Homo sapiens: one gene and its partners. The gene in region 3 interacts genetically with the main gene of each other region. Each region holds a gene or a part of one and is shown on either strand. Other genes may lie near its edges.

Region 1 (3,660 bases), on a different chromosome or scaffold from region 3:
GTTGACCATGAGTTCGATGCTAATGAATCAATGTATATTAAAGATATATTTAGGCAGAAACACGCATAAAAAAGGTTATGCATTGATCAGTTGGCAACAGTGTTGTGACCAGAGGCTTGTGAGAACTGTATTTCCCCTAGGAGCAATGGCTCAGTATTTGTTAATTCAGTGGTTGCAGCAATTTTATAGAACACAATTACTGTGAATGGGAATCAACTGTATTTGATTAACGGTGGTGATTTATAGGGACTTTAGATACCAGAAATGTTTCATAATTCCCTTTCTCTGAAATCACTGTTTTAATATGTTTAAATGCATGCATGCAGAGTTGTGATGTTAAACATAATTTTACTGTGGGTTCTGGTCAAAAAAGATGAAATGTCATTGGTTAACTTGAAAGAGACATTATTCTAAACATTATCCTCCAGAAAATTGACATGTACAGGAAGCATATTGAATGCTCAGCAAATAATTTGTTTTAGAGTAATAATCTTTGAGTATTGTAGTGATTCGAGTTTTGGAAAAGAAGGCAGTATCAGTGTTAGAGAATAATATTCTTTCAGGATTTTATGTAGTTACTTTAAGGTGCATGAAAGGAGACTCAGTTGGGTGTTAAATTCTTGTCCCTGCTTTACTTGAAACTAGTAATCTTGAGAAATTTACTAAATCATTTTGAGCCTTGATTACCTTGCCTGCAAAGTGAGGAACATTTTCAATTTAAAATTCTATTTCTTTTATTAGTATTCTTCCTGACCTTGAATCATTTCTATTCCCATCATGTCCAGTTGCCAAGAAAACCATGCAACTTAATGTTGTTTGTTAGCCATCAGATTTTATTTTACTGAACTCAAGTTCAGTCACATCAGTTACCGATAAAATAATAAGTTCTATATTAATATTTGATATATCTTGACATTTTGTATTATGGTAGGAAGAAATAAAAGACCTTCCTCAAATTTTAGGATATGGGCTTCTGTTTGTTGATGTTTGTGTTTTATGATACACTGTTGTAAATCATACTAAAGGTTTTCTCTGAAAAAGACTAGAATTGACAATACTTCATTTGTTAGCAGTTTCAAGTTTTAGATCACGGGTGCATAATTTCTTGTGTGTGCACAACATGTTGGCATTTTATCTGACTTCAAAGATGTCCATATAGATACCAGCAAAGGATAAAATGTAAGAATGAATATCATGAAAAGATGCTGTATCAGATAAAATTCTAGAGCCTAGGTTAAAAAACATAAAGGCAAACATGCTTGATATATAAAAATTGAGAAATATGATAAAAAGAAGTAAGTTTAAAGCATCAGTAATACCACTGCCTAAGATGCAGTTTATTTTGAAATGTTGTCTTCTAGTCTTCATACAGTTTAAAAATCATACTATAATCACAATTTCCAGCATTTTCCCCTTAGCATAATATATTATAACATCCATGTTTTTAAAAATATTTTATGAACGTCATGTTTAGGGATTACACCATATATATCCCATCTCATAGATTCCTTTATATTGAACATTTGGATTTTTATTTACATTTTTATTTACATTTATTTTTATCTTTATTTTTTGCTTTCGTGGATAAACTGCAGTGAGCATCCTCTGTATAAATTTTTTTTTTCTGTTTTAGGATTACTTCCTTAGGATAGATTGCCAGAAGTGGAGTTACTGGGTCAGAGGGTATGAACTTATGAACTTTTTTTTTAAATAAATTTTTTGTTCATTTTCTGTCCAGTCATTTGTAAAAAAATTAAAATAATAATGATTATAATTGTTACCTGCTAGAAAACTGTGTCTGAAGGCAAGATTCTGTGATCAGAAAAGTTTGGGAAATACCCAGGGTAAAAAGCCTTTTAATCTGATTTACCTCAGCATTTCCCAAATTAACTGAACACTGAAAATTTTTTTTGATACACTTCTTAAAATTTTGTGGAAGTTTTATATAGGATATAGTCTATGAACTACTGATGTAAAATTAAAATTGTTTTATTTGCTTGAAATATTATGTTTTATTGGTCAAAGGAATTAAACTATAAATCTTCATGCTAAAAATTATTAAAAGGGATTAGTGTTGTTTACTATGGTTTTTGTGCATGTCTTTATAAAGTCTTATAACTTTTAAAATTGAAATGTTCTATATTGTTTACTAAAGAACATTTTAATGCCTTGGTGGCATCAATACTTTTTTGCAATCATTAATGATATTTAGAAAGTAGACATATAACATGAAAGTAGAACATAATATAGATTGTACAAATCTTGTTTTTTACCCTATTTTCCCCTGCAGAATGTGAAAACCTTTGCATCTTCTGATAGTCTAGCCAAGGTCCAAGAAGTAGCAAGCTGGCTTTTGGAAATGAATCAGGAACTGCTCTCTGTGGGCAGCAAAAGACGACGAACTGGAGGCTCTCTGAGAGGTAACCCTTCCTCAAGCCAGGTAGATGAAGAACAGATGAATCGTGTGGTAGAGGAGGAACAGCAACAGCAACTCAGACAACAAGAGGAGGAGCACACTGCAAGGAATGGTGAAGTTGTTGGAGTAGAACCTAGACCTGGAGGCCAAAATGATTCCCAGCAAGGACAGTTGGAAGAAAACAATAATAGATTTATTTCGGTAGATGAGGACTCCTCAGGAAACCAAGAAGAACAAGAGGAAGATGAAGAACATGCTGGTGAACAAGATGAGGAGGATGAGGAGGAGGAGGAGATGGACCAGGAGAGTGACGATTTTGATCAGTCTGATGATAGTAGCAGAGAAGATGAACATACACATACTAACAGTGTCACGAACTCCAGTAGTATTGTGGACCTGCCCGTTCACCAACTCTCCTCCCCATTCTATACAAAAACAACAAAAGTGAGTATATTCAATATATTGTTAACCTGAGAAACTTTACATATCTATTTTAATTGTAATGAAACTTTCCTCACAGTCTTTGTATTACTAAAAATTAATCTTAAGATGTGTAATAATAAAATGAACTAGTTTTTTGTCTTACAGAAGGTAATGGAAAGTATTACAAGTAGAAATACTGATAATGGGACAATCTGAGTACAAATGGAGGGAAAGTAATTGAGCCTATTACTATGAAAAATTATTAACATCAAATTTTCGTCTAAACCTTGCGTCCCGGGCAGGGATTAGTAGCTTGTGTGGGGTGTAGAGGTTTCGGGTGAAACATGATTTGTGTAAATCAAGTAATGAAGAAACTTTTTATTTACAAAATGCAGCTGCTAGAGTGGGCTATTCACAAGTGTCACTCTAAGGCATAAATTACTCAGAAGTTGCCTCAAATTAGTTCTAGTTATTTATCATTTGAGAATTAGAAATAATGAATATTCATGTAGAGTAGACTTACAAGTTAAACTATGTTTTGGAAAGGAACATTTTAACTTGAATATACTTGTTTTATAGACATTAACATAATGTCTGTGGTAGTTCATCCTCTTACTCCTACTTGCTTATTTCTTACATTTTACAGTGATTTTAGGCCATAAACAATATACAAACTGATTTAACATCGTATCGTTTAACCTAACTTGACTTGGAATGAAGTATCTTACACACTTGGATTAATAATAATTGAAATGCTAAATCATGTTTTACATCTGCTTGTAAAACCTTACTTTCTAAAATGTGTTTGGCCCTAATTTACC
Region 2 (2,469 bases), on a different chromosome or scaffold from region 3:
CAGCCCTCTCACACAGCACGCTGGGGCCGGGTGGGTGTTGACACTCCAGGGAGGTGTGAGACAGGGAAGGAGTGGGGAGGGGCCAGAACATCCATGCCGGACACTGCTCTGTGTTATTCATGCCTTATCCCTTGACTCTCACAAATCTCTAAGTTGTTATTATCTCCATTTCCCAGATGTGATGCTGAGGCTTGGAGGTGACATGATTTGTCCAATGTTACAGTCAATGAATGGTAAACCAGGACAAAAGCCCAGCCCTGGTGACCTAAAAGCTCACTTGGGGTCGGGGGACTGAGGGAGCAGGGGCCCTAGAGCACAGTGGGGGTTTCGGGGCAGTTGGAAGGCCTGAGTGCCGGGTCTCGGCAGGTGCCCACCTTGGCCATGTACTCAGTGACGATGTAGAGCCCGCCCTTCTCCTCCACGATCACGCCCAGGAGCTGCACCAGGTTGCTATGCCGCAGTTGCCTGGGGCAGGACGAGAGTGGTCAGAAAGGGGAAGCTGGTGCCTCACTCCTAACCTAGGCCAACCTCCCCCCTACCCCGCCCCCACTCACGTCATGACTGAGGCTTCAGCCAGGAAGGCCTGGGCAGTGGCGTCGTTCTTAATGCACTTGACGGCGACTTTGTTCCCTCGGTAATCGCCCAGCATCACGTCTGGGGGCAGAGAGGTGGTCTTGTTCCCAAGTTCGGAGTCCCTCAGAACCCCCCCAGGGGGCCCGGCCCAGCTCACCTCCGAACTCCCCCTTCCCGATGGTCTGCAGCAGCTTCAGCTCCTTCATGTTCAGGGCCCAGCCGCCTGTGGGGAGGGGCCAGTGAGGGCCTGGAGGCCACTAGGGACATGGCTGGGATGACAGAGGCTGACTGGACTATCAGGCACTGGGGTTCTCTGGAGGTTCCTGGATGGGGCAGTGCCAGGAAGCCTGCGTGGGAGGAGGTGGGTGGGCAAGAGGTCTGGGGTGGGGTGCACTCACTGCGGTAGAACTCATCCTGGGCCGCCACTGTGCCCTCCATGACCTTTGGTTTAATGAGGCGCGTACAGAGTCCATCTGCGTCTGAGGTGTAGTGCTGCAGGGTGTGGGGGGCAGGGTGCTCAGAGACAGCCCAAGGTGCCCCATATGCACCGTCCAGGCCTGACCACCAGAGGGCGGCAGAGGCCAGCCCCGCCTAGCCTGGAGTCACTGAGTGGGGAGGGCTCCCCATTTCTGGTAGGGCAGGGGTTAGGGAAGTCCCAGATTATGACGTATGGCCCATTTCCCATGCCACCCTACATGCGGTTGCTGGACACTCAGCTGCTGCTACCACTCTGGGCCCCATGGGTATCTGATGCAGAGGGCAACCCATGGCTCAGTCCTGAAACCAGCCTCTAGCCAGGAGTGCCCAGGACCCCACCCTCACCTGCCACAGGCCAAGCCAGGCCAGTAGGGGAGGGAGATAAGAGTGAATACAGAGGGACACGGGAGGCTTCCTGTGGCTACCGGATGCCAGGTGTGGCCTGGCCAGGGCTGGCAGAGCTGGCCTGGGAAGCTGCAGGGACCTGTGGGCATGTCCGTGCAGGTGCGAGAGCCTCAGGGGCCCTGGCGATCAAGGCGCATGGCTCATGTTTCTGCACACGCTTCTGAGCATGCAGGTCTGTGAGTGGCTGGAGGAAAGTTAGCTCTGGGATCAGACAGACTCAGATTCTAGTCCTGGCACCAAATTATATCTGTGGGACCTCAGGTGGGTCCCCTAACTGCTCTGAACCTTCAACTCCTGGTCTATAAAATGAGGATAAGGCTCCCCTCCTCATGGTGGCACTGTGGGGTCAGAGGTGAGTCCTGGCACGCAGCAGCTGCTCCACCAAGGTGTGAGGAAACAAGGGCTCACAGAAGTTGCCCCACATGGCTGGTCACCACGCAGAAGCAGTGGGGCTGGAGCTAGAAGCCAGGGCCCCAGATGGGTTTAGGGTGTGTGAGGGTGGGAGCAAGGCTCTGTACCCCCCAGCTCACCTCCACCAGCTGCATGAGGTTCTCAAAGTACACCTCCTCGTCGATGCTGAGCTTGCTGGCATGGTACATGATGCGGTAGTGCTCCACCTTGCCGTCGCAGCTCACGCACAGCGTGTAGTCTCCGGGGTAGTTGGTGCTCTCCCGCACCAGGAACAGGCCTGTCTCCGGCGGGTACAGAAGCCGCTCAGCCTGCTCCCGTGTGATCTTGCCGTGGAACCAACTGGGGAGCAGCAGGGCTGGAGGTCATGGTGGCCCAAAGGTACTGACCCTGGCTCCCCTTTCTGAAGGGGTTCCCTCTGCTTGGCACCCGTGGCTCGCACTCGCTCAGTCAGGCATTTGAGGCCCTCTTCTTCTGCTCCCTGTCCCTTCTTTGCCACCCTCCTGCCTCTGCCCCCAGCCCTGCTCTGTGAGGTCCCGCACCCGCACCCTGCACCTCCTCCTGAGGCCCTCCCCAACACCCAAGCCCCTCACTCTGGCCTCCCTG
Region 3 (3,660 bases):
CTTTCAAAAACATCTCCACTATTCATTATCTCACCTAAAACCAAAATCACACTTAACCTCCTATTTTCCCTGGTGGGCCTTAACCTAAAGGCAGGTTGTTACTGTCTCCAGTGCAAAATAGGCTGTCCTTTCAGAACTTGTGTGTCTCCCCCTATTCTGGCCATTGTGGTAAGTGGTAAATTTAAACACCTCCCAACATAGCCTTTATACAGTGGTTAGGAAAAGTTGATGAATTGGTATAAAACTACTATCTGGAAAGGAGAGAAGGGGAAGCTACATGCAGGGGTCCCTGGGCCAGAGTAGGAATGAGGAGGATTCTCCTTTCTCCTAAGGAGCGTATTCCTCATTTGGGTTAACTGGCCCCTCATTCTGCTGTCTTGGCAGATGTCTTTTGTTGCCATTTGCAGGCTCCTAACCTGAGAGGGGCATTAGAGGGGTTCCGCTTCTGGGAGGGATGCTGCCTTTGCTCCTCCTGAAGCCCGTTTATTTTGATGCGAGTTCTTGTTTAGCAGCTCTTGGACTTTCCCAGACTTTTTGACATTTTCTCTGATTTAAAACCATACTGGGCATTTTGTAGATTTACTTTTGATTGATTTGTATTAAGTCAACTTCCCGAGTTGGCAATGGCAGGCAGAGAAATCTTGTTTAGTCATAATATTTGACTGTATAGACCAGGCTGGGGTTTCTCTCTTTTAACATCTGGCGTTAGAGCTTGGCACATATCTCTGACCCCAGCTTAATGACCTCTTGTTTTGAGCTCCACTTTAGGACAGTTTGAAGCTACAATTTGAGATGGGGAGGTTAATCGATACTGTCACTAGGTGAAGAATGTACATGGTAATTCTTAGGAGGGGTTTGGGAAGTACCTGGGAACTAGGCAGTAGCATCTCTCCTAGTGACGATCAAAATGTCTCCAGACATTGCCAAATGACAACTGGAATGAGGGTGGGTGGCGGTAAAAATGATTGAGAAACTCAGCATTAGACCATGCAACAGAAAATGCCAGTTGAGGCAGCACTTGTCTATCTTGGTTCTCATTTGACCAAGAGAAGCTTTTTACTCCAAAGGCATACTACTGAATGTCTGTGTGATACAAGGGTATAAGAAATAATACTTGTTACTTCTTTGATATTACTCTTAAGTGATTTATTTATTTTTTAAGTTACTGACTTTGTGACTTATTTAATTCATATTAATATATTAGGCTTCCCAACTGACGGTGTTGCAGTTGAGCTAGCTTCCAGTTTTGGAGAAACACATAGTTGATTAGTTCTGTCAGTAATTTTCAGGGATATTAATATAACTTTGATATTAGTGAGAAATTTTCTTTCAGTAGTAAAATGTTTTCTAACTTAGGAGCTGTTAAATTTATGATCCAGTAGTTCAAAAGACTACAAAAAAGAACTTTTAAAACCATGCTTGAATGTACTTTTAGAGTATTCTGTGTTTTTAGAATACTTGGAATTTCAGAGAACAAATGAAAGTTGTATCTTCTTGCCACAAAATTCATATGTGCTTATTTGAGCGGTGTCATGCAAATGTACTCACTGATGAAGTTTAGATTTAATTTTAATGACCCTGGTAATAATAGTTCTCTTTAATGGAAATAAGCATTAGCCAGGATAATCACATATTATCACTGAAACTTGTTATCAGTTTTATTTTTATAAGCTGATTTATATAAAGATTTTGGCACTCTGTTTCAGGTGGCTCCTTATTTAAAAAAGGATTAAGAATATTGTATATATGTATTCTAGGTAATTTACAAAAATAATTTTCTTATGGTAATTTTGCTTATTAATGTCAGTAGTTTCAAGAACTAGTTAGGCTTAGGTGCCCCTTAAATTTAGTATTAGGTGGTGTGCTCTTGGACCAACTATTTAATTACTAAGATGTATTGAATTTTATATGGGACACAAAAGTTCTGAGATTAGTGCTCTTAACATTTTATTTATAAATAGGATAATAAACTTAATTCTTCATATTATTCCATTTGTAAATGACCATTTTACATTTCATGGAAATTCTGTAAATTTTTGCATTAATATTAAGTAAAATTATAGAATTATTTGACAAGAAACTGACATTCTTGTGAGAAGCAAAATATTATAGTTAATCATTGAAAATATACAGAAATTTCTTTTCTCCCTCTTCTCCCACTCTTCTCTTTCCCTTCTTTCATATTCTATTTTTTGCATCCATATTGAATGCTTAGTCTTCCAAATTTATTCAATTCTCTTTGAAAAGTATTGAGTCATCTTTGAGATAAATGTAGTTTGAACTATTATGGGCATTGGATAGGGAGGAGCAGGAATGCAAATCTTGCTTACTGTCTCTATACTCAAAACATTTACAATAAGCAGTATATTACTGAGAAACTAACTTATCACATGTTGATAAATCACCTTTTGAAGAGAAGTGCAAAAGGAAAGTGGTGCTAGTGAAGAACCCAAAATGCCTATTAAAGGTTTTTCTTGCTTTTTTTTTTTTTTTTTTGAGACAGAGTCTTTTCTGTTTCTCAGGCTGGGAGTGCAGTGGCGTGATCTTGGCTCACTAAAACCTCTACCTCCTGGGCTCAAGCTATCCTGCCACCTCAGCCTCTTGAATAGCTGGAACTACAGGTGTGCACCACAAGTCTGGGCTAATTTAAAAAAAAATTTTTTTTGTAGAGATGAAGTGTCACTGTATTGCCCAGGCTGGTCTGGAATTCCTGGCCTCAAATGATCCTCCCACCTCAGCCTCCCAAAGTGTACTCCTGGCTGGTTTCTCATATATAAAAAAGGAAAATAGTTTCTGGTATGTGTCTAGACATAAAAGGATAAACTCTAAATTTAGTAGGTGGAAATAATCTGAAGTTAAGCTCTCACTTTTAGCTTTGGGGTAGATTTGATTTAACAGGAAGACTCAATCTGTGTTTCTCAGGAAAAGTATGTTATTATTGCTTGAATAAACCATATCGTATAATTCTTACAGATCAGAAAGATACCTTATCTTTGAAAATGCATTGTACCTTTTTAAGTAGTGATTTATTTATTTTTATTTTATCTTATTTTATTTATTTTTTTGAGACAGAGTCTTGCTCTTTCGCCAGTCTGGAATTCAGTGGCGCAATCTTGGCTCACTGCAACCTCCGCTCGCTGCAACCTCCGCCTCTCAGGTTCAAGTGATTCCCCTGCCTCAGCCTCCCGAGTAGCTGGGACTACAGGCGCACGCCACCATGCCCAGCTAATTTTTTTTTGTATTTTTAGTAGAGATGGGGTTTCGCCATGTTGTCTGGGATAGTCTCCATCTCTTGACCTTGTGATGTGCCTGCCTCAGTCCCCCACAGTGCTGGGATTACAGGCGTGAGCCACTGCGCCAGGCCTAAAGTAGTGATTTATTTTTATTTTCAAAGTAACTTTATAGCTACATAAGAACACTCATTGGTGGTTTATTTATCAGTACTAATGGACACAGGCCCTGAGAAGCCATCAAGAGGTCAGTCATCTTAGTCCCAGTATTTGCTTTTTGATAATTGGATCTCTCCTACACTGACCAAACATAACTCCTGAGTAGTGTGGGCTGTTTTAATTTTTAAAAATATTATAGCTTTACAATATTTTAAAAACATTTTCTTTTAACTTTTTCAATCATCTGCATAAAGACTTTGACGTGCTAATG

Evidence for each region.
Region 1: changes in PHF20L1 (region 3) and FBXW7 are lethal when combined (synthetic lethality), as found in Homo sapiens cells (one study listed by BioGRID).
Region 2: changes in PHF20L1 (region 3) and CSK are lethal when combined (synthetic lethality), as found in Homo sapiens cells (one large-scale study listed by BioGRID).

Annotation. Positions count from the first base shown.
Region 1 is NC_000004.12:152,410,503-152,414,162, reverse strand, and holds part of FBXW7 (F-box/WD repeat-containing protein 7), read left to right. Parts: intron 1-1,633; 5' UTR 1,634-1,683; intron 1,684-2,290; 5' UTR 2,291-2,359; coding exon 2,360-2,860; coding exon of another isoform or gene 2,861-2,890; exon of another isoform or gene 2,891-3,003; intron 3,004-3,660. UniProt on the Homo sapiens protein: Substrate recognition component of a SCF (SKP1-CUL1-F-box protein) E3 ubiquitin-protein ligase complex which mediates the ubiquitination and subsequent proteasomal degradation of target proteins.
Region 2 is NC_000015.10:74,799,008-74,801,476, reverse strand, and holds part of CSK (tyrosine-protein kinase CSK), read right to left. Parts: intron 2,206-2,469; coding exon 1,986-2,205; intron 1,066-1,985; coding exon 972-1,065; intron 797-971; coding exon 731-796; intron 655-730; coding exon 555-654; intron 466-554; coding exon 375-465; intron 1-374. UniProt on the Homo sapiens protein: Non-receptor tyrosine-protein kinase that plays an important role in the regulation of cell growth, differentiation, migration and immune response.
Region 3 is NC_000008.11:132,778,367-132,782,026, forward strand, and holds part of PHF20L1 (PHD finger protein 20-like protein 1), read left to right. Parts: intron 1-3,660.